Linked DNA regions of Homo sapiens. The protein of the gene in region 4 purifies or fractionates together with the protein of the main gene of each other region. This does not show direct contact. Each region holds a gene or a part of one and is shown on either strand. Other genes may lie near its edges. The genes, in order: FAXC, GLUD1, PITPNB, ALDH6A1, KIAA1191, PNPT1 and MME.

Evidence for each region.
Region 1: the proteins of ALDH6A1 (region 4) and FAXC fractionate together in Homo sapiens (co-fractionation; one large-scale study listed by BioGRID). This does not show direct contact.
Region 2: the proteins of ALDH6A1 (region 4) and GLUD1 fractionate together in Homo sapiens (co-fractionation; one large-scale study listed by BioGRID). This does not show direct contact.
Region 3: the proteins of ALDH6A1 (region 4) and PITPNB fractionate together in Homo sapiens (co-fractionation; one large-scale study listed by BioGRID). This does not show direct contact.
Region 5: the proteins of ALDH6A1 (region 4) and KIAA1191 purify together in Homo sapiens (co-immunoprecipitation; one large-scale study listed by IntAct). This does not show direct contact.
Region 6: the proteins of ALDH6A1 (region 4) and PNPT1 fractionate together in Homo sapiens (co-fractionation; one large-scale study listed by BioGRID). This does not show direct contact.
Region 7: the proteins of ALDH6A1 (region 4) and MME fractionate together in Homo sapiens (co-fractionation; one large-scale study listed by BioGRID). This does not show direct contact.

What each region holds. Positions count from the first base shown.
Region 1 is NC_000006.12:99,270,668-99,273,671, reverse strand, and holds the end of FAXC (failed axon connections homolog), read left to right. Parts: 3' UTR 1-2,504; downstream 2,505-3,004. UniProt on the Homo sapiens protein: May play a role in axonal development.
Region 2 is NC_000010.11:87,074,344-87,077,843, forward strand, and holds part of GLUD1 (glutamate dehydrogenase 1, mitochondrial isoform a precursor), read right to left. Parts: intron 2,314-3,500; coding exon 2,233-2,313; intron 1,681-2,232; coding exon 1,625-1,680; intron 272-1,624; coding exon 208-271; intron 1-207. UniProt on the Homo sapiens protein: Mitochondrial glutamate dehydrogenase that catalyzes the conversion of L-glutamate into alpha-ketoglutarate. Plays a key role in glutamine anaplerosis by producing alpha-ketoglutarate, an important intermediate in the tricarboxylic acid cycle.
Region 3 is NC_000022.11:27,895,257-27,898,756, forward strand, and holds part of PITPNB (phosphatidylinositol transfer protein beta isoform), read right to left. Parts: intron 2,637-3,500; coding exon 2,545-2,636; intron 1,882-2,544; coding exon 1,874-1,881; intron 1,371-1,873; coding exon 1,296-1,370; intron 1-1,295. UniProt on the Homo sapiens protein: Catalyzes the transfer of phosphatidylinositol and phosphatidylcholine between membranes. Also catalyzes the transfer of sphingomyelin.
Region 4 is NC_000014.9:74,060,454-74,063,953, forward strand, and holds part of ALDH6A1 (methylmalonate-semialdehyde/malonate-semialdehyde dehydrogenase [acylating], mitochondrial isoform 1 precursor), read right to left. Parts: intron 294-3,500; coding exon 189-293; 3' UTR 1-188. UniProt on the Homo sapiens protein: Malonate and methylmalonate semialdehyde dehydrogenase involved in the catabolism of valine, thymine, and compounds catabolized by way of beta-alanine, including uracil and cytidine.
Region 5 is NC_000005.10:176,348,664-176,351,764, forward strand, and holds part of KIAA1191 (putative monooxygenase p33MONOX), read right to left. Parts: intron 2,075-3,101; coding exon 1,950-2,074; intron 1-1,949. UniProt on the Homo sapiens protein: Potential NADPH-dependent oxidoreductase. May be involved in the regulation of neuronal survival, differentiation and axonal outgrowth.
Region 6 is NC_000002.12:55,641,845-55,645,344, forward strand, and holds part of PNPT1 (polyribonucleotide nucleotidyltransferase 1, mitochondrial precursor), read right to left. Parts: intron 2,877-3,500; coding exon 2,793-2,876; intron 1,582-2,792; coding exon 1,475-1,581; intron 1,370-1,474; coding exon 1,314-1,369; intron 1-1,313. UniProt on the Homo sapiens protein: RNA-binding protein implicated in numerous RNA metabolic processes. Catalyzes the phosphorolysis of single-stranded polyribonucleotides processively in the 3'-to-5' direction. Mitochondrial intermembrane factor with RNA-processing exoribonulease activity.
Region 7 is NC_000003.12:155,181,319-155,184,204, reverse strand, and holds the end of MME (neprilysin), read right to left. Parts: 3' UTR 501-2,886; downstream 1-500. UniProt on the Homo sapiens protein: Thermolysin-like specificity, but is almost confined on acting on polypeptides of up to 30 amino acids. Biologically important in the destruction of opioid peptides such as Met- and Leu-enkephalins by cleavage of a Gly-Phe bond.

The DNA.
Region 1 (3,004 bases), on a different chromosome or scaffold from region 4:
ACGCATGATTTTAGGTCAAGGTATTTAATTATTTTTACTTAAAATAGGCATTTTTGGTTGGGAAAGAGAAGGATGAACAATTTGATGTCACCTTTAAGACTGATGTTTTTAATTCTGCTTTTGGGACCACTTGATCTAGAATGCCTTGAAAATTCCAGAAAGATTTAACAACACACTGAGGTAAGCAAAACAAGAAAAGAAAGTAGGGGTGAGGTGATACCCAGATAATGCAAATGCAGGATGTATTGTCTGTGAATTTCAGCATCAATCTGAAAAACATGTTTTGATAATGCCTGATAATTCATCATCTCACTGATTACATGTCTTTTTTTCTATTTGTTTATAATCTTGTGTCTTCAAATGTGTGGAAGATGTGCAGACTTATTTTTAGGTATCTGAGATAGGAAGGGCCAATGTTGGCATAATTTGAACCCACATTTCGGGGCTAATGGGCGGACACCACCTGGAAACACTTACCTGCACCCTCTGTTTTGCAATCACAATGATTAGCATCTTGCTGAATGATGACCCCAATGTGAAGATGGCATTTCAGTGTTTATTTCTGGATCTATGAGTTACTTTAGCAGAGTTATTAGTAGTTTATAAAGCCATATTTAAACTTGTACACTTGATTGTAAGATAGATTTGAATTGTGCACTATGTTGACTACTGTATATAAATGTGGAAATTCTGTATATTTGGTCTTAATGCTATATGTATTTGATGTGTAAATGATAACTAATGGATATGAAATAGTTTTCTGTGAATGTCTTTCTTCCAATTTACTTCTCTTTTGCAAATTTGAATGTTTAAACTTCAGGCTCATGGGGAAAATCTGAAATGTTTGCATCTAATATACTGTTAAGTGGTGGTCTCTTAGATGACTGGGAGAGTATTTTAGTTGTAAGGCTCTTGTATAATTAAAACAGAGGTAATGAATTTTTTAGGCATATAACTTTGATAGAATTTCAAGTGAGTGGCTTTTAAGAAGAAAAACAGATCTCTGGAATATGCTGTCCCATCCTCTCCTGCTTTTATTTCATGCCCAGTGTGCCTCAGAGTGTTACGAAGTGTGAGAACCACTGGTAGAGAGAAGACAAGGAGGAGAGGGAGAGCTGGGAGCACATGTTGAGACCTTTACTATGGCTAGGCCTTATAATAGACCAATTTCCCCTTGTATAAATATTGTCTCAATTAGGCAGGGTGCAGTGGCTCATGCCTGTAATCCCAGGACTTTGGGAGGCCAAGGTGGGCAGATCACCTGAGGTTGGGAGTTTGAGACCAGCCTGACCAACATGGAGAAACCCTGTCTCTACTAAAAATACAAAATTAGCCGGGCATGGTGGTGCATGCCTGTAATCCCAGCTACTTGGGAGGCTGAGGCAGGAGAATCGCTTGAACCCAGGAGGTGGAGGCTGCAGTGAGCTGACTTTGTGCCATTGACTCCAGCCTGGGCAACAAGAGCAAAACTCCATCTCAAACACACACACACACACACACACACACACACACACACACACACACATATAGTCTCAATTAGTTTTCATACCTCTTCAATAAAGTAATTATTGTTCCCAAATTACAGATGAAGAAAGACGTTTGGGATGATAAACTGGCATATGGTAATATGGCCATGATATGCTCAAGTCTTTAGGGTCAGAGATTCACAGCAAGATTTTGGAAATTCAAATCTTACTATGAAGTGATTCACACATGTGTATGGTAATGAACCTTAAAGGATAGCTGGGCCTATAGGCATGTCAAGATCTATAGAGACATGCAGGATGTTTCAAATTCTATCTTAAAATTTGACCAAATCTTTGGTCAAATAATAATACTGTTACTCAAATATTAGCTTTTTACCATTTAGAGCAAATTACAATCAGGTAACATTCAAAATTCTAACCCTCCCTTCCCAACATGGGAATATCTATTAAGTAGGAAATGAGAGAACCCCCTAATTTCCCATTTCAGTGATAATACTGATTGAGTATCTCTTATCTGAAGTGCTTGGGACCAGAAGTGTTTTGGATCTGGGTTTTTCTCAGATTTTGAAATATTTGCATTATACCAGTTGAGTATCCCAAAATCAAAACTGGAAATCTGAAATGATCCAATGTCCGTTTCCTTTGAGTGTCATGTTAGTGCTCAAAAAGTTTTGGATTTTGGAGCGTTTCAGATTTTGGATTTTTGGATTTGGGATGCTCGACCTGTAGTTTGGTTTTCATCTTTTTAGACTCCATTTCTCTTGACCTATAAATCCTATCAGCCCTGTTTATTAACATAGACCCTAGTCAGAAATACTTTGAAATAGATCTACATCTACTTCAACGTCAGTTGGTTCCACACCCTTCTAGAACTTGTGTGGGGTCCTGGACTTCCCGTCTGTCCTGTTAGGGAAGCTTTGCTGTCCTAGCTTTCAGGACTCATCAGAGGGAAGAGGGTCATTTACCTTTCCAATGTGCTGTGATCTCAGAGTCGTTAAAATACATGTTTTGCTGCCATTTGTACTGTTTCTTGACTCAATGTTTCATATTTCTGTTCTTCTTTCCTTTTAGAGGAGAGGCGGAACAGCTGGTCTCCCTGCTCTCTCAGAAGCTGCTTGATTTGTTTCTAGATGACGCCACTGGCAGGCACTCATTAGATCTTTCACAGCTGGGCTGGTTCCCATTAGCAACAGACTTTTCTTTTAAAAACTGTCAAGGTCAGAGCAGCTTATCCTTTGGATAAAAGTGGATTTTGGAGGAAAAAAAAAAGAGGAAAAAGAACCAGCTTCCTTCCTTACGGAATTAGCGTGTTGCTGCCCCGTATGCCTAAGAGGTCTATTTTAGTGCCAGCGTTCTTGTTATGAAGACTTAGGGGGTCGTCTCCAGTGGAGGGACTGTTCGGATTGGAGGGTTACGTTCACCTACCGCAGGGTATGTTGGGCCTGGGCAAACACACTGGGTAACCTGTGCTCAACATTATATACAGGTAAATCTGGATGAAAACAAACATGAAAGGC
Region 2 (3,500 bases), on a different chromosome or scaffold from region 4:
TACAAAAATCAGCTGGGTGTGGTGGCACATGCCTGTAATCTCAGCTACTTGGGAGGCTGAGACAAGAGAATTGCTTGAACCCAGGAGGCGGACGAGATCGCACCACTGCACTCTAGTCTGGGCAACAGAGTGAGACTCCGTCTCAAAAAAAAAAAAAAATTTTTAGATGTTCCCACTTTATACCAAAAACTATGTGGCTACACATACCAATAAAGCCCTTTTTTGCTAGCTCCATGGTGAACCTCCTTGTGATCTTTTCCAATTCATTATCCTGTAAAATAAGAAAACAAAAACAAAAGAAAAAATTGATATAAAAATCGCTTGAGATTATAGCTAGCATCTTATTTTCTATTTATAGTACATTTTCATATGTCTTCTCATGTAATCCTTAGAACAACTCATAAAGTAGGCATTGCCATTTTAAAGGTGACAAAATAAGGGATCAAAAAAGTAGGTTATAAAAACAAGATAGTAGAACTAGGGCTCAAATTCCCATTCTATTAATTCCCCACTGAAAAATACACTAAATCTTAATTAAGATTAATTTAAATATAATTATATTCCATTTAAATGGTGAATTTTAAAGAGAATAAAAATCATGCATTTATGTTTGTATATAGATAATTTAGTATTATGTAAAGCATTGTGACAATCAGTTTGAATTAACTTGGAACTGACTGGATAAAAAGTAAGGTTTTTATAGTCTTAGTTAAGATATGTGTCACTAGAATCAGATCCTGACATAAAAACTTCAGATCACAGTAATACTTTTTTCTTTTTGAGACAGAGTCTTGCTCTGTTACCCAGGCTGGAATGCAGTGGTGAAATCTCAGCCAACCTCTGCCTCCTGGGTTCAAGCAATTCTCATGCCTGAGCCTCCCGAGTAGCTGGGATTACAGGTGTGCACCACTATGCCTGGCTAATCAGATCACAGTATTTCTTAAATATGGGTATAAGTGTCTAAGTGAAGACATTATATAAATATGGGTATAAGTATATAAGTGAAGATATTAATTACGTTTTAACTAAGTAAGAAAATAATAAAACAAAAAGCAAAAAAGTAAAACAAAAGACTCATAAAAACAAAACCAAATGAAACAGAAAATGATAAAGGATATAGATATTAAGTAGGTGATCTTTATATGGCAAAACACGCTATGAGTTAATTCTTTACATTTTTCTATTCCATTTGAAAAGCAATGGGGACTACTGATCTCACTGATAGTGGGGGATACAGAGAAGCCCAGTAATTTCAAGTCCTTCATAAATGCACTGTGTGCACAAATGTCACTTTGAGGCCGGGTGCGGTGGCTCATGCCTGCAATCCTAGCACTCTGGGAGGCCAAGGCAGGTGGATCACCTGAGGTCAGGAGTTCAAGAACAGCCTGGCCAACATGGTGAAATCCCCTCTCTACTAAAAATACAAAAATTAGTCGGGCATGGTGGCGTGCACCTGTAATCCCAGTTACTGGATCAAGGAGAACTGCTTGAACCCGGGAGGCGGAGGTTGCAGTGAGCCAAGATTGCGCCATTGTACTCCGGCCTGAACAACAGAGGAAGACTCTGTCTCAGAAAAACAAAAACAACAACAACAATAAAAAACAAATATCACTTTCATACTTACAGTATAGTTCTTGGGATTGATCTTAACACCAGCTTTAGCACCCCCAAACGGCACATCTGAAAGAGAAGGCTGATGGTTGCTATTCCATATAAATGTTAAAAAAGTAAAATGACAGAAAGCACCACACAATATTAGAGAAACGTGATGCTTTAAGCTTGAATTTCTGAAAATTCAAGAAATAAACCTACCATCATTTTCTAAACTGTACTTTAAACAACATTTTGTTGAACAGAAATTGTTCAATAAAATTGGCTAGCCAAGTTCTAATATATATTTAATCAGTGCTCTTTACCACTTCTAAAAGATAATAGCTTATTTACTCTCCTTCTACTATAATTTGGTCTTATTTACAGAATGTGTTGAGGAATTGAAAACAAAGATCTAGACTTAAAATCCAATTATCTCCTATTTTAAAAAATCCCCCATGTAAAAAAAAAAGGCTATATCTTAATTTAGACTAATTGAAAAATGATGCAGGTCTTAAAGATTACAACTTGAAAAAAAATCAGTTCTGATAAGGTATATTTCTACAGCATCTTAACAGTAACATGTGTGTAAACATATTTCCCCAGAGTTCTCATTAGGCAGCAAGAAAGGCGATCACTTACCAACCACTGCACACTTGTATGTCATCAGAGAAGCCAAAGCTTTTACTTCATCTACACTCACATCAGTGCTGTAACGGATACCTGGTGGTGTTTTTAAAAAAATGTGTTGGGGTGGGTGAGAAAGAAGGGGTTATATTTAGAACAAACTTAAGTAAGCTTCAAAAAAGAAAGCTACAAATTGAAAATATCCACTTTTTACATTTTACATCCAAGCTATGTCCAAAAACACTTGAAGCAGCTTGTACATCAGAACACCATGAAAAATGAATATAAAACGTTAAAAAAACCTGCTAATAACAGTAACTATGATTTCACAAGACAAAAATCACCCTGCAATGAATTTCTGTACACTTTCCAGAAGGCTTTTTTATGTTCCTTTTACCTTTGGTTTGGGTGACCTGGTTGCAGGGAGTTCAAGAATTCAGGTTGCTTTTTTTTGGGGGGGTAGGGGTGGGAAACAGGGTCTTGCTCTGTTGCTCAGGCTGAGTGTAGTGGCACAGACATGGCTTACTGTAGCCTCAACCTCCTAGGCTCAGGTAATCCTCCCACCTCAGCCTCCTGAGTAGCTGGGACCACAAGTGCACACCACCATGCCCAGCTAATTTTTGAATTTTTTGTAGAGACAGGATCTCACCATGTTGCTCAGGCTGGTCTCAAACTCCTGGGCTCAAGTGATCCTCCCACCTTGGCTTCCCAAAGTGCTGGGATTACAGGCATGAGCCACTATGCCTGGCAAGAATTCTGCTTTCTGATAATTCACAAACATGGGCAATGAATAATCACCAGGTTCAAAATACCGTATGTCTAAACAGAGGTTTTGGCTTCAAATGGGTATATTAAAAGAGATCCTTACCTGTTATTCTCCTCACCCACTGCCAACCTCTTTCAATCTGAAAATGAGAAAGCCATTTTCCCTTTCTGAGGTTGAGTGATTCCCTTCACCACTTCTGCAAAGAGGGCAGGTAGCCAAGCAGACAGGTAGGTACTAGTGCCCCTGTATCTAGTAGCCATTACGTGTTGGTACAGGGTATACTGGAAGTGGGGATGCCCACAGCTTTGGCTTTGGGGGTCTTGGTCAATTACTCTTCAAAGTTTTGGAGTGCTAATCCACCTTTCTTTCTCTATAATCCATTGCTTCTCAATCCCAAGGAGGAAAGTCTGAGTGGGGTTGATGTTTGACTGCACAGTGCTTGGGGCACTGGGTGTTTGTGTGTGAAGGATACCCACAAGAAGCTGCAGCATTTTTTCTACCCTCCCACTCCCAACAG
Region 3 (3,500 bases), on a different chromosome or scaffold from region 4:
ATCTTATCTAGATTATAAATTATAGAGGATTACTAAGAAAAACAACATAAAGGCTGGGTGCAGTGGCTCACACCTGTAATCCTAGCACTTTGGGAGGCTGAGGCAGGCAGATTACCTGAGGTCAGGAGTTCAAGACCAGCCTGGCCAACATGGTGAAACTCCATCTCTACTGAAAATACAAAAGTTAGCCAGGCATGGTGGTGCATGCCTGCAGTCCCAGCTACTTGGGAGGCTGAGGCAGGAGAATTGCTTGAACCCAGGAGGCAGAGGTTGCACTGAGCAGACAGCACGTGATTGCACCCCAGCCTGGGCAACAAAGTAAGACTCTGTCTCAAAAAAAAAAACAAAAAGAAAAACAACATAAAATGTCAAATGATCACTTGAAAGAAAACTCAAGTAAAATACTACATATTAAAATTCAAAGTTCTATTAACTGGCATCAATAACGTAAGAGCACCGTAATAGAACAGTAAAAACAGAATTTGCCACAATCATTAACCTACTCTCCTGGAATGAATGTGCATCAGAAAACAGAAACTGCTGAGTCCCACCCCTAGAGATTCTGGTTCGGTAGTTCTTGGGTGAGGTCAGAGTATTTGCATTTCAAACAAGTCCTCAGATACTGTGCTGCTGCTGGCCCATCCAAAGACCACACTTTTGAGAACTCCTAGACCAAGGGCATCAACCTATACAACAGGACTTCCCAAGTTCCACGACAAACCTTACCAAAAGTTAATGATTACATTTTTTTAAGTCCTAACTCAAAGATGTTCTTGAATCTTAAAGAGATAAATGTGAACCAACTTATATAAGTCAACAGCTTTTCAACATTTTTGTAAGTTATTCAAGTACTTTATCCCTCCTGCCTTTTGGCCATTTCTCTAACATGAGCCCATACCCTTGCAAAGCAGACAAGAGGTAAAAATTAAAGCAATCAATCCTGCTATGCAGAGCAGCTCTGACAAACACTCAGATATAAAAGCAATCTAATTAGCAAAACTAATGGCTAAAATTGGGCTGGGGATTATCTGTGAATTTTGTTTATTCATGCTCTCCTTGTCTCGGATAAAGAGAGTTGCTGATCAAAACAGCAACTTTACCAAAGTGTCAAGGCAAGCGGACTGATAGGGAAAGCCTATTTGGTTTCTGGCTGCTTGCCCGCCTCATCTCAATTTGACACAGCTTGGTGCGGTCAGATACACAGGTGACATTACTTTGATGATGACAAAGTGAACTACATATAGAATTCTCGTTTCCAGGGACTTTTGTACTAAAAGTGCAGAGTTGAAACTTACATTTTCTAATGTTCCCAAGTCTGGTTTGTGCCATGTTTCGATTTTAATGAAGAAATCATCTTTCATATATTCATTCTGCAGAAAACACAACAGGAAAATGACAGTGATCTTCTACCTGTTCCTTGGTGCCCACGTCTGAGGGAGCTTTTCCCAGTATAGGCATCCATGCTTTGACTCTACAAGGAGACTGATACTCAAGTGACAAAGAATCATTGGCTACCGATTTTTATAGACTTGTCAGGCAAACCAAATGCTACATGCTTTTAAATAATTTAAACAATTCTACTTGCCACGTGGCATATCGGGCTAATAAAGAAGCTGTGAGGTCTGATAAACAAATATGGCGTTTGAAGGGAGTAACAAAAGCAAAATAAAATCAATAGGGAGATTTTGAGACAAGGGTGGAAAGGGCCCATGAACACTGGGAACATGTGGTAGAGTGTGGCGGCTGGTTGGTGGGACACAGGAAGGAACCATGCAGCGAGGTGCAGTTAGCAAAGAATGGTTGAAAATAATTACTGTGTAAAACAAAGTTTAAAGATAAAGAAAGTATGAGACACAAAAATAGTTTTACTCACCGTTACAACTGAGGCATAATGGAGAGGTAGGTAATGAAAGGAGAAAAATTTCAGAATATTAATTGGAGTCAAAACAATCTGTCCCAATACTTAATGTCACAAAGACTAAACTATCTGAAAACAGAACATTTATTTAGTAATTTATGTCTGCAAAACAGTTTCCACACAAGTGACACTATACAGTACATTAGATTATGGAGTACAAATAAAATATGAACAATAATCTAATTTTAAAAATAATGCTAAAAAGAATAATAATGTCACAAAAGCAAAACATTATTTATAAGGTCAATTTAGCAAATGATAGGATGCTGTTTCAGAAGTCTGTCCTATTCCTCCTCTATTATGTAGCAATTTAAGTAAAATACTGTTGAAACACACCAAAACACCCTTCTGAGTGTAAACGACCTTTCTTTTGGCTTACCCCTGGAGCCAGCATAGTCAGCTAGGACCCCAAAGTGGCTGCCATGTGGGAATGAACTTATGCCTGTCACAAAGTTCTAGGGGGAGGAACCCAATGCAGCCCTTCCTCTGCCATCATTCTAGCAGTGACTATCCAAGAACCCAAGGAAGACCTTGCTCAGTGTAAACCTTCTCAAAGACACTGGTACTGGGAATCCCTCTCATTCTCAGGGTGGAGGGGTGCAATGGCTGCTGGGGGCCAAGCTTACTTGTTCTACAGTAGGGGTACGCATTCCAGGCTTTCTCATGAAACACCAAGGAGCCCTCGGGAGCAATCATCCTCACGAATGCAGGCACTTTGCTGGGAGAAGAGAGATACTGGATATATTTAACAGCACCATCAATTCTTTCTTGGTATCTATCCAACTGCTTGAAAGAGTATGGCAATCAAAGGTGACCAGGTTCTAAGTCTGATGAACTAGTTTATTTCAATCCTAAAGTAATCCAGTAGAAATGAACACATAATTTTTTACATTTTAAATAAAAATGATTAAGAATATTTAGCTGGGTATGGTGGCTCATGCCTGTAATCCTAGCATTTTGAGAGGCTGAGGCAGGAGGATCACTTGAGCCCAGGAGTTTGAGACTAGCCTGGACAACATGGTGAAACCCTGTCTCTACAAAAAATATAAAACTAGCCAGGCATGGTGGCACATGCCTGTAGCCCCAACTATTCAGGAGGCTCAGGTGGGAGGATCACTTGAACCTGGGAGATAGAGGTTGCAGCAAGCTGAGATCACACCACTGCACTCTAGCCTGGGCAAAAGAGCAAGACCTTGTCTCACAAGGAAAAAAAAAATTAACTGTATAAAAGGTTTTGTGTGTGTGTGTGTGGTTTTTTTTTTTTTAAATAGAAGCAATTATTTCTTAAGAACTTCTGATCTACTACCCCAATGTAAAACCTAAGAGTTAACAGCTATTCAATCTGCACATTAATACAATGTAGTTCTTAAGAGTTAGATGACATTATACTGTTTCTTAATGCAAAAAGCCCCAGAATAAGGAGATATCTCTGAATAAAAGTCTGAATACATTTTATAGAACAGACCTGAAGAAAAATGACAATGTAAAGGACCCATGCAGAAAATGAGAAATTAAAGCATATCCAAGTATAAAATTTTGTAGGTATGGGAGATGAATGTCACTTGCTGCCTTAAGTATATTC
Region 4 (3,500 bases):
ATCTGGTTTCATTGTTACACTAGGCAGTTCCCTATAGAAACTTTGCGGGGGTTAATAGTCCTGAGGAAGATTTTAGTTACAATGTATTCCAATCCCATCGATCTGATCTGAGCAAAGCTGACAAATGAAGCTGGTCAAAAATAAAGGGAGATTACTCAGGATGGAGTCAGTCTTAAACAAACTTGTTTCTAACGGCCCATGGTAGGCATGACAACAGCAGGTGAGGAAAGAGTAGCATCTTCTTCTTTCCACTGAGAAGTAATGGTCTTTAACTGAGTGTAGAATTGGATGCCCTAAGGAAAACAGAAAAAAAGTTAGCATATATTTCTGGGGTTTCATGATTCTTCTTTTAATTAGCTTTTGAAGGAGGTATTATAAAGTGCTACTCACTTTCCTAATTGAGAAATGCAATCAGAATCCAATATATATTGTTCCTAAGATAATTGATCTAAAACATTTAACATAATACCTGGCAGATAGTAAACAATCAAACCTTAGCCATCATTATTATGCTGAAACTAGTATTTCTTTCTTTTTTGTTTGAGATGGAGTCTTGCTCTGTCACTTAGGCTGGAGTGCAGTGGCATGATCTCAGCTCACTGCAACCTCTGCCTCCCGGGTTCAAGCAGCTCTCCTGCCTCAGCCTCTCGAGTAGCTGGGATTACAGGCACCTGCTACCACGCCTGGCTAATTTTTGTATTTTTAGTGGAGATGGGGTTTCACCATGTTGGCCAGGCTGGTCTCGAACTCCCGGCCTCAAGTGATCCGCCTTCCTCGGCCTCTCAAAGTGCTGGAATTACAAGTGTGAGCCACCGTGCCCCCAGCTATTATATAGTAGGCCATTTATTTATTTATTTATTTATTTTGAGACAGAGTCTTGCTCTGTTGCCCAGGCTGGAGTGCAGTGGTGTGATCTTGGCTCACTGCAACCTCTGCCTCCCAGGTTCATGTGATTCTCCTGCCTCAGCCTTCTGAATAGCTGGGATTACAAGTGTGTGCCACCATGCCCAGCTATTTTTGTATTTTTAGTAGAGAAGGGCTAATTTCAGATTAGCCCATGTTGGCTAGCACCATGTTGGCCAAGCTGGTCTTGAACCCCTGACCTCAGGTGATCCGCCAGTCTTGGTCTCCCAAAGTTCTGGGATCACAGGCATGAGCCACTGTACCCAGCGGCCATTTCTGATAATTATCAGAGATCATGAGCTCTATATTGAAGTGGCAAACCCAAAGTATCTTAGAAATCTAAAGTAAAATGTCTGACATTATACAAATTCACTTCTCAATTACCTATAACATGTGAGCCCAAAAATTCAGCATATTTAACTCTCTCTATATATAGATATAGTTTATAAGAGTAGGCTTGAGCAAAAGAGAATACATTGTGCAGATCTAACACTTATATAATTACTAGCAAGCTAGAATGACATTTTACCAGATTACCAGAGTAATTTATAATAATTAAACTGGGGGGTGCAGCCAGGAGCGGTGGCTCACACTTGTAATATCAGCACTTTGGGAGGCTGAGGTAGGCGGATCACTTGAGGCCATGAGCTCAAGACCAGCCTGGCCCAACATGGCGAAACCTCGTCTCTACTGGGAAAAAAAAAAAAAAAAAAAAAAAAAAAAAGCTGGGCGTGGTGGAGCCTGAGGCAGAATTGCTTGAACCTGGGAGGTGGAGGTTGCAAGTGAGCCGAGAATGCACCATTGCACTCCAGCCTGGGCAACAGAGCAAAACTCCCATCTCAAAAAAATAAATAAATGGAGAGGGTGGGCAGGGAACAATTTTTAAACAATAGTTGTACTCTGTTTTGCTTAAAAGAAATGTTACTAGTATCAAATTAGTCATTTTTACAAAAGCTGTGACTAGGCCGGGTGCGGTGACTCACTCCTGTAATCCCAGCACTTTGGGAGGCCGAGGCAGGCAGATCACCTGAGGTAAGGAGGTCGAGACCAGCCTGGCCAACATGGCGAAACCCCGTCTCTACTACAAATACAAAAATTGGCGGGTGTGGTGGCACGTGCCTGTAATCCCAGCTACTCGGGAGGCATAGATACGAGAATTGCTTGAACCCTGGAGGCTGAGGTTGCAGTGAGCCAAGATCATGCCACTATACTCCAGCCTGGGTGACAGAGAAAGATTCCATCAAAAAAACCCCAAAACAAAAAACCAAAAGCTGTGACTAATATACAAACTATATAATCAACCTCCAAATACCAAAGTGTTGACTTCTTAACCATTTGGCCACACTGTCATAATGCTATGCAATCCCATTGTTAATTTTTTAATAACCCAAACATAAATAAAATAAAAAAGCCCCACATCCCTCGCCCTGTGGCAGCACATAGCTGGCACAGAAAAAAAAAATCAACCTATAAAAGGGGAGACTTGTATAACAAAACATGTAATTTATTAATGAAGGTTTCAAAATGGCTCTAGTCCTATGACTAGAAAGAACTTCCCCTAGCCTATTTGTTCAACAAATGTTTGGGCAGCCTGCTCTGTTCCAGGTACTGCAGATAAGTAGATAACAACTACAGTCTGATGAGGGCTTCTTTAAATGGCTTAAAGAGCCCTACATGACTCAACCCCTGCCTGCCTCTCTAACTTCATTTCTTCCTTTTCTTCTCATTTGCTCACTGTGCCCCAGCCCATTTCCGCTGTCTGAATGTGCCATGCTTCTTCCTGCCTCGGGACATATGCACCTGTTGGCCGATGTGGCAATAGTAATAATTCTTCTTTTTTTTTTTTTTGAGATGGAGTCTTGCTCTGTTGCCCAGGCTGGAGTCCAGTGGTGCAATCTCGGCTCACTGCAACTTCCGCCTCCCAGATTCAAAGGATTCTTCTGCCTCAGCCTCCCGAGTAGCTGGGATTATAGGCACCTGCCACCACACCTGGCTAATTGTTTTATTTTTAGTAGAGGGGGTTTTGCCATGTTGGCCAGATTGGTCTCAAACTCCTGACTTCAGGTGATCTGCCTGCCTCAGCCTCCCAAAGTGCTGGGATTACAGGCGTAAGCCACTGCACCTGGCCAATAGTGATAATTCAGTCCTTACAATGTTATGAAATACATAGGTACTATTGTTATTCATTTTATACGTGAATAAATTTAAGGCATAAAGAAGGTATCCTGGTTGGCTGTGGTGGCTCATGCCTGTAATCCCAGCACTTTAGGAGGCTGAGGCAGGCGGATCACCTGAGGTCAGGAATTCGAGACCAGCCTGGCCAAAATGGTGAAACCCTATCTCCACTAAAAATACAAAAATTAGCCAAGTGTGGTGGTGGGCATCTGTAATCCCAGCTACTTGGGAGGCTGAGGCAGGAGAATTGCTTGAACCTGGGAGGCGGAGGTTGCAGTGAGCCAAGATTGTGCCACCGCACCCCAGCCTGTGCGACAGAGTGAGACTCTGTCTCAAAAAAAAAAAAAAAATTAATGGTATCCCCCAAAGTCAGACAGCTAATAACTGGCTTAGCTGGGATTTGAACACAGGCAATTTGGTTC
Region 5 (3,101 bases), on a different chromosome or scaffold from region 4:
AAGAGCCAGAACGCTAGCTGCCAGCCTTCTTGGCCTTTTAAGCAGGGCTTAAGCTCTTGTCTCGCTGCTGCTCCTACCATGTACAAAGCCCTGCCCATCCTCAGTCTCTCCAAGCCAATACTCAGGCATGCTGCTTCTCTCCAGCTAAATGCTTCCTCTGAGGAGCCTGTTCCATTCTCTCCTCCTTCTCTCCCATAGTCAGCCACTCTGGGTTCCCTCAGCACCGTGAGCATTCCTCTGACTCGCAGTCTAGTGGGGAGAGACAGGTCTACATCTCAGCTCTTCTAGAGCAAGGTTCCCATGCTGTTTCCTCCCTCCAGGCCTGCCACGCCACTGCTTAACCCAAGCTGCACACCAAACAATGATCACGTTTGAATTTTCTCAAACGCTCAACAGATCCATTCATGTAAGTTGACAATCTGTTACAAGATGTAAGTTACAGCTAATATTTCAGCCATCCTCATGTTCTACTCCTATGGGCAAGACACAGAAAGTGGGTCAACCAAAGTCAATCCTACCATTATATAAGGTGAATTGCTCAAATAGAATTCTCACTGACCTATCCTGGAAAGTTCTCAGTTAAGGGTCAAAGGCTGCCGGTGCCCCTCTCTGGAAGCTTCTGTCTTGTTTGAAAGCTTAAACTGGCCACCAGCCCAAACCTGATTTCCTATAGCAGTTTTTAAACCTAGCCTGCAAAAGAATCATCTGGAATGCTCATTACAAAATGCAAACAGGGCCGGGTGCGGTGGCTCATACATGTAATCCCAGCACTTTGGGAGGCCAAGGCAGGTGGATCACATGAAGTCAGGAGTTCAAGACCAGCCTGGCCAACATGGTGAAATCCCATCTCTACTAAAAATCAGCTGGGCATGGTGGCGCATGCCTGTAAATCCTAGCTATTTGGGAGGCTGAGTTGGGAGGATCACTTGAACCCGGGAGGCAGAGGTTGCAGTGAGCCGAGATCACAACACTGTACTCCAGCCTGGGTGACTGCAAACAGGCCACAGTTTTATATCCACAGTTTTATATCCCCACCCACAGGCCACCAGATCCGGGTTATTCCTCGTTATGTATAATGTATACCATGATTCTTTCCTGCGTCGTGTGCTCTCCTCACCTTGCCCTCATCATACCCTGTTCAGAACTCTTAAAATAAAGCTTGGAACAAGCCTGGATTCTGACCCCCCCTTGCCTAAAGAAGACAGCCCAAGTTTCTTAACTGTAATTGTGTCTCTTCACAATCTGCCCCTGACTTCCATATGAGCCCCTTCAGGAGCCAGATTTCCAGGCTGCTTTGGAATGAGGAGGAAGAAGCCAACAGGAAGTAAGGCATCAGGAGACTTGGGTTCGGGTACTATGACTGGCTGAATAGATGGCCTCGAACCTCAATCTCCTCATTTACAAAATATGGAGAAGAGCATCTGTCCCAAAAGGTGATTGTGAGGATGAAATGAATGCAAGTGCTTCACAATCATAAAACACTATCCAGTATGAAGCGGTCTTCACTGAAAGAAAGTCATTTGAAACTATTCATTCAAATACTTGGCTATCACTAAATTAACCCTTACCAAAATTCTTCACTTATAGAAATGAAATAGCAAAAACATTCCAATTCCACATTTGATTTTAACTTGTTCCTTTCCAGTTAAGCTGTTACCTCTGTTGAGGCTGCCCAGTTCTCCCCAAGATACTCCACATTTGCTTTATGATTCATAAAGTACTCCTATGTATATGTAAGCTGAGGCTCTCACTTGATTCTGCTAACCAGAAGTAGCAAAACAGACACCCCACTGTATAGGTGGATAAGCAAAAACTACGAGGCTAAGAGCTCGGGAGCGAGACTAACTCCACAGCCCCCAACTAACTGAGCTGGTAACTTCAAAACCACAGCCACATTTCAAGCCATGAACACTGAAGGTTTTGTTTTTTCAAAGTTCCTAAGAGCTTACGTGGAGTGCTTCGGCCACTCGAAGGTACTTGGTCTCCTCGGTGGTGAGGCCCTTGTGGGGTGTGTAGCCAGCATCTCTCAGCCCTGCCTGTCGCTCAAAATGCTGAATGCTTTCCTGGGTCTGTTCTGGGAACAGAGGAGATGACAGTCATGCCCATTCCCCTCTCCCATCACAAAATAAGGAGGACAACATGGATATCTACTATTCTCCCCAGAAGCAAGAGACCACACTGACCATTCAAAGAAGAGGAGACTTTCCCCAGAGAGGCACCACAGCAGTAATTCTGAACCTCACACAAAGGCTCTCTAGCCAGAAGGAAGCCTTCCCTCACACCAAGCTGAAGAGGTTATTCCTAAAGGGACAGCTGAAGAACCTTGAGGACAATACTCCCACCCTCCTCTTAGTTGTACATGGTGACATTTTCTTTGTATTTAGAAATGCAACATGGGGCTGGATGCAGTAGCTCACACCTGTAATCCCAGCACTTTGGGAGGTCAAGGCGGGCGGATCAAGAGGTCAGGACATCCAGACCATCCTGGCTAACAAGGTGAAACCCCATCTCTACTAAAAATACAAAAATTAGCTGGGTGTGGTGGCAGGCGCCTGTAGTCCCAGCTACTCGGGAGTCTGAGGCAGGAGAATGGCGTGAACCCGGGAGGCGGAGCTTGCAGTGAGTCGAGATCGTGCCACTGCACTCCAGCCTGGGCGACAGAGCAAGACTCCATCTCAAAAAAAAAAAAAAAGTTACATTGTGCTAAAAGAACAATGAATAAGTTTTGTAACACTGCTAGAACACATTCTCAAGCTTGTAAAATAAAAGTAGTGTTGCTGATTCAACAGATGTGAATAAGAAAATCAAAGTATAGGTGGTGCGTGATGGCTCACACCTGTAATCCCAGCACTTTGGTTGGCCTAGGCGGGCAGATCACGAGGTCAGGAGTTTGAGACCATCCTGCCCAACAGAGTGAAACCCCATCTCTACTAAAAATACAGAAATTAGCCAGGCGTGGTGGTGGGCGCCTGTAGTCCCAGCTACTCCAGAGGCTGAGGTGGGAGAATTGCTTGAACCTGGGAGGCGAAGGTTGTGGTGAGCTGAGACCACAGCATTGCACTCCAGCCTGGGTGACAGAGTGAGACTCTGTCTCAAAACAA
Region 6 (3,500 bases), on a different chromosome or scaffold from region 4:
GCTTTTTTTTTTTTTGAGATGGAGTCTCGCTCTGTCGCCCAGGCTGGAGTGCAGTGGTGCGATCTCATCTCACTGCAACCTCTGCCTCCCGGCTTCAAGCGATTCTCCTGCCTCAGCCTCCTGAGTAGCTGGGATTACAGGCATGCACCACCATGCCTGGCTAACTTTTGTATTTTTAGTAGACATGGGGTTTCACCATGTTGGTCAGGCTGCTCTCGAACCCCCCACTTCCTGATCCACCTGCCTTGGCCTCCCAAAGAGCTGGGATTACAGGCGTGAGCCACCATGCACAGCCGAAATTGGATTTAAAAATATGTGCCAATTAAGCATTCAGATATGTTTAAAATAAGCCATCAAAAGAAAAAAAAAGAAATAAAGAAATATTGCTAAGTCTATTTTGGGCCTATTTAATATTTACTGGGAAAATTAATTTGGGGTTTCACCAATTACTAGTAGAAAATTTGGTTAAAGAATTCAGTTGGCCGGGCGCGGTGGCTCAAGCCTGTAATCCCAGTACTTTGGGAGGCCGAGGGGGGCGGATCACAAGGTCAGGAGATCGAGACCATCCTGGCTAACAAGGTAAAACCCCGTCTCTACTAAAAATACAAAAAATAATTAGCTAGGCGTGGTGGCGGGCACCTGCAGTCCCAGCTACCGGGGAGGATGAGGCAGAATGGCGTGAACCCGGGAGGCAGAGCTTGCAGTGAGCTGAGATCGCACCACTGCACTCCAGCCTGGGTGACAGAGCGAGACTCTGTCCCAAAAAAAAAAAAAAAAAAAAAAAAGAATTCAGTTAAGAGAACCTATCATAATTAGAACCACAGAACTGCTACTTTAATTTTATAAAATGATATAGAAAACAAAATATACTATACCTTAAAAAATAATGATTATATGGCAATTGGCATGTAATCTAAACACCTTATGATTTCAAAGTAAATGTAAAATTAAATTGGGATTATAATAGGAATCTGTTAAAAACCAAAACAGGGCTGGGCACGGTGGCTCATGCCTGTAATCCTGGCACTTTGGGAGGCTGAGGCAGGAGGATGGCTTGAGGCCAGGAGTTTAAGACCAACCTGGGCAACATAGTGAGACCATGTCTTTACAAAAAAATTAAAAAATCAGCCACGTGTGGTGGTGTGTGCTTGTAGTCCTAAATAGGAGGCTGAGGTGGGAGAACTGCCTGATCCCAGGAGTTCAAGGCAGCTGTGAGGTACAATGGCACCACTGTATCCCACTGTGGGTGGCAGGGTGAGACCCTGTCTCTAAAGAAAGGAAAATGCTCAGCATAGTATATTACTTGATATTACCTGATTTCAGTTATTGTGGCGGTATATACTGCTCCAAATTCTAATTGCTGCTCCTGCTGTAAGTGCAAAATAAGCCATAAGATTCATAAAGAAAACATCAACAAAAAGTAGAAAAAACAAATATAGCTATATGATACGTAATTAATATGATCTATACTTACATCATCCTTGCAGATTTCAGTAATGAAGTCTCTTGCCTCATGCATAGCACTGGGTGTTGGTGCAAATACAGAAAACGTTTCTTCATCCACCTGACTAATAGTTACACCTTTTAAAAACAAAATGTAACATATTAAAGTTAACTTGGCTGGGCATAGTGGGTCACATCTGTAATCCCAGCACTCTGGGGGGCTGAGGTGGGAGGATCACTTGAGCTCAGGAGTTCAAGGCCAGCCTGGGCAACATAGGGAGAGCCTGTTACTACAAAAAATAAATTCAAAAATTAGCTGGACCTGGTAGCATGTGCCCACCTACTTGGGACTCACAGTCGGGAGGATCACTTGATCCCAGGGGTCAAGGCTGGAGTTAGCTGTGATTGTGTACTGCACTCCAGTCTGGGTGACAGAGCAAGGCCCCATCTCAAAAAAAAAAAAAGTTAACTTGCTCATTCCAGTGGAAACTCGTCTTAAAAATAGATGTGAGAATAGGAGGGACCTATTAGTAGCTGGGTGGAGTTATGCTGTATTTAATCATTACTTTAGGAATGAAGGAATTCATTCATCAACAAATACACTCTGCATACTTGCTAGGTACCTGGCATTATACTAGGTAGGCCCTGGGGATACAATGGTGAGCCAATATGCTTGATTTCTTGAAATTCACCATCTAGTGAAATCAAATATATCTATACAAATTTTGGAGAGTCTGGTTCTGCTCTCTTAATTACGAGTAGAAACTATAATAGAACCCTTTCCTTACTTTTTTTCTTTCTCCCGCTTACTCTTACGAGGGGTGAATAAATGAATAAGGGACAAAATCACATCAGTTTCTCAGTGTTAGCAAATGGCTAAGGTGACAGTGCTTCTCACTCTCTTGCAGTAACCTCAAACCTTGAAGTACGAGGTAATTCAAACATTGCTTCAGGAAAAATAAATTAAAGCTTTTTTTTATATACTCTTTAAATAAAAGAGTTAAAATAAAACTAAGTGAAAGTAGCAGAATAAAAAGAAATAACTAAGTAATAATTCCTCTAAAGTTAAAAACTAAAAATTATTCTAGATGTTCAACTATAAAATGTTGCAAAAAAGTCCTGATGAATTCTTTGTAATCCTTCTTGAATTTAGTTAAGAATGACCATTTGCTAATTTATTAATAGGCACACAGAAAACTCACAGTCAAGACACGTCATATCCTTTTCTCCTGGTCTTTCTCTCATTTCTCAAATAAATATATATTTAAAGCAACATACTAGAGATGAAATAGCAAACTTTTATGGTCTAGCATTTAATTAAAAAACCCCAAACTTCATACAACTCTTACCTGTTTCAGCCTGAAGTTTTTTTAAGTTATAGCCACCAGGTCCAACAAATTTTGCTCGTTTTGATAATGGAACCTGAACAGTTTCTGGAACGTAATACAGACAAATATATAAACAATTCAACTACATACATGAACCTAAAACATGCCATGGTCACTTGAGATTTTTTTTTTTTTTGACCTAGACACATGTAAAAATATTTTACTATAAAACAGAAAAGTAGATGATTAAAATTACTGAAAACTGTTAAAGAATATTCCCTAAAATTTAAAGCATTTTAACTACAAAAGTATTTAAAATATTTTCGTTTTGTGCACTGGGTAAAAACAATTTAAAAGCAGTAATATTCATTCATATATTAATGTTTATCTTACCATGATCACTAAAATTTTTTTTTTTTTTTTTTTGAGACGGAGTCTCACTTTGTCGCCCAGGCTGGAGTGCAGTGGCGCGATCTCGGCTCACTGCAAGCTCCGCCTCCCGGGTTCATGCCATTCTCCTGCCTCAGCCTCCCGAGTAGCTGGGACTACAGGCGCCCGCCACCACGCCCGGCTAATTTTTTGTATTTTTTAGTAGAGACAGGGTTTCACCGTGTTAGCCAGGATGGTCTCGATCTCCTGACCTTGTGATCCGCTCGCCTCGGCCTCCCAAAGTGCTGGGATTACAGGCGTGAGCCACCGCGCCCAGCCGATCACTAAAATTTTAATGTA
Region 7 (2,886 bases), on a different chromosome or scaffold from region 4:
TTTCTCACTGTTTTAGAGGAAATGCAAAATACAAAGAAGCAGAAATTAAGAAACCATTGTTAGATAAAAGATTAGAATGCGATAAACATGTGCCAGTTTGACCACCAGTCAGATGTGACTCCTCTGTCCACTTGACCAACCAAATGGTCAACTTCTTCAGACTAGAGACTGTGGATAAAGACACTTACTTTTGGCTTTTGCCTAAGTCATCTGATTATGCTAGTGACTCCATATAACATTTGATGGCCATTTCACTTTTGAAAAAAAATCCAATCAGAAAGTCATGGTGATCTTTGAAAAAGGGTGGGGAAAACAAGGACATAATGGATACAAAGCTTATATCATTCATTTTCTAAAAATTCAATTTGAAGCTAGTGGGAAATGCAAGACTACAGAGATAAAAGCTCCATTTAATCTTAATATTTTTCAAGAAATAAATGGGGTAGAGATTTACACAGGAGTTGGCAGTTTGGAACAGAGTTGACTAGGCATAAAAGCAATAGTATTAAAAACGTTTGTTTTTATTTTGTATTTTTGAGACTGGAAACTGATAAAAATTTCTGATTAGGAAACTTTGAGAATAGAGTCTTTCTTCTTTCCAAAATAACAAATGTCTTTTAGTTTGAGAGCTCCAGCTGTGGCAACAAGAATGATAAATGCTTTTGAGAAAATTAGCAAGGTTTTGCCCCACTTAAATGGTTAACAGTAACAGCAGCACAGACCCAAACTTGATAAAACTTTGGTACTTGTTATTTGGACTAAAATTTTGTCTCACTCGATTCAGACACGTAAATGGGAGTTTTCAGTTTATCCTGCCCACTGATTCATAACTGGGAGACAGATTCATGGGAAGGCAGCATTGGACACATACTCCTTCTCTTGCTGAGAACCACCAATATAATCTAATTCTCTTTTTTTAGGTGAGAGAAGCAGAGGCCCAAAGGAATATTGCAAATACCCAAGGTCACCCTGTCAGGAGTGGCAGAATAGGGCTGGAACAAGGACTCTTTTCTCTGGACAGCTTGCACCTACAATCCTTTCCATCTTGCACCTACAATCCACTCGAACACTGCAGCATGGAGGCAGACTCCTTGCCAACGGGTATTGTCGAGAGCTTCTTCCTACCATCATTTGTGAGTTTCATCAGCTCCCAACCCTTTGTGTCTCAGCTTCTAAACTTTCTTTCTTTGACCAGAACTCAGCCATAGTAGAACTGGATTTATGGATGGAATTAGAGATATGTCTTATCTGATGTGACAACTCCAAAGAATCGGTAGTGCTTTAGAGACATCAGAAGGCTCTACAGAACTCAACAAGAGTACCATGTAAAATTCATGATGTCTGGATGTGTGAGGGATAGGGAGGCATTGCTATTTTTGACTTTGATCTATCCTTTAGGCCCAGAAAATCTTATATTTGTAGACAGAGGGGATCCAGGCACTGGAGAGTTGTTCCTCCATAGGGATGGGAGCCTAATGTTTTAAAAAGCTAACAGTGAAGAGTCTAGTGGCTTTTTATAATTTGTACTAGTCACTCTTCACTTCTGGCTCTTCACCTGCTCTGACATGATGGAAATAAAATAAGTTAGAGACAGCTGTTTTATTAGAGCTGGAAGCTCCTATTACTCCAACTACAAATGTCACTTAGGTAAGTTTTAAATGTATTTTAGGGAAATATAAGTATACTTGTAACGGTGGTTGTGATAAAGGAGGAAAGGGTAAGGGTATCCACAGTTGGCTTGAAACTATAATTTCAATGCTTATAATAATTTTTGGAAGGATTTGAAGAAATAAGTCCATTAAAGGCTCAAGTAAGATGGTAACATGCAGTACATTCATAGTTGCACTATTTGTAATAGCGCCAAAATGGAAAGTTCTCAAGTGCCCATCAACAATAGGATGAACAAATTGTAATAAGTCCCACAATAGAACATTATTCTGCAATGAGAATGAAAAGATCCACAATCAGCACAATACAGAGGAATCTCACAAATGTAAGGCTGAGAGAAAGAAGCCAGGCACAAAAGAATACATACTGATTGATTCTATCTGCATAAAAGACAAAACCAGGCAAAGCTAGTGAATGATATTAGAAGTCAGGATAGTTGTTGTTCTGGGAGTAATAAAGTGACAAGGAGGTGCTTTTAGAGCGCTGGTACTGCTCTGTTTCTTACAGGTGCTGGCTACAGGGCCATTGTTCAGTTAAAGTTAAGTTTATTGAACTGTATACTTATGCTTTATGCAATTTATGTACATATGTTATAGTATTTCTGTAACTTTTTTTTTTAAAGGCAAATGGGCATTTTTCAAGAGACAGGGAACTAATACTCATCATTTAGATAGAAATTCCCTGCTTTCATCTTTTGTTAGGAAAAATAAGAATTTTGGAAGTGCTCCTCTTTTGTAAAATCTTAATCAAGTAATGAACGAAAATAGTCAATACAACAGGAAAAGAGAGGAACAGAAGCCTCAAAAGATGAATTCCTATCAAGCAGTAAACAGTTCTTTTCCAGAACTCTTTGTGACTTATAATTCTAGAAGGTCCATCAGAGGCCTCCCATTTCTATTCAGAAATGCACTTCTAAAGTTAGACAGTTGTCACAGTCTTAGGGAGCAATGAGTTCACAATTTCAATTTATTATCAAAATATTTCCATCTGATGACAAACCTGAAAAGACAGGAGATGCAGAGCTACATAGGTGCAGATTTGCCCTTTTATCAGAGACACTCTCAGGGACAGATTTAATTTTGAAAGTCCAATTTGAAAACCACAAGTATATATATCTCTAGACAACTGTCCAATGGCAATTTTTACCCTAAAGTTTGTGCTTAAATCTTTTCATCAATATGATTTATAAGTTTAAATAGTCTCAAATTTTCATCTGTA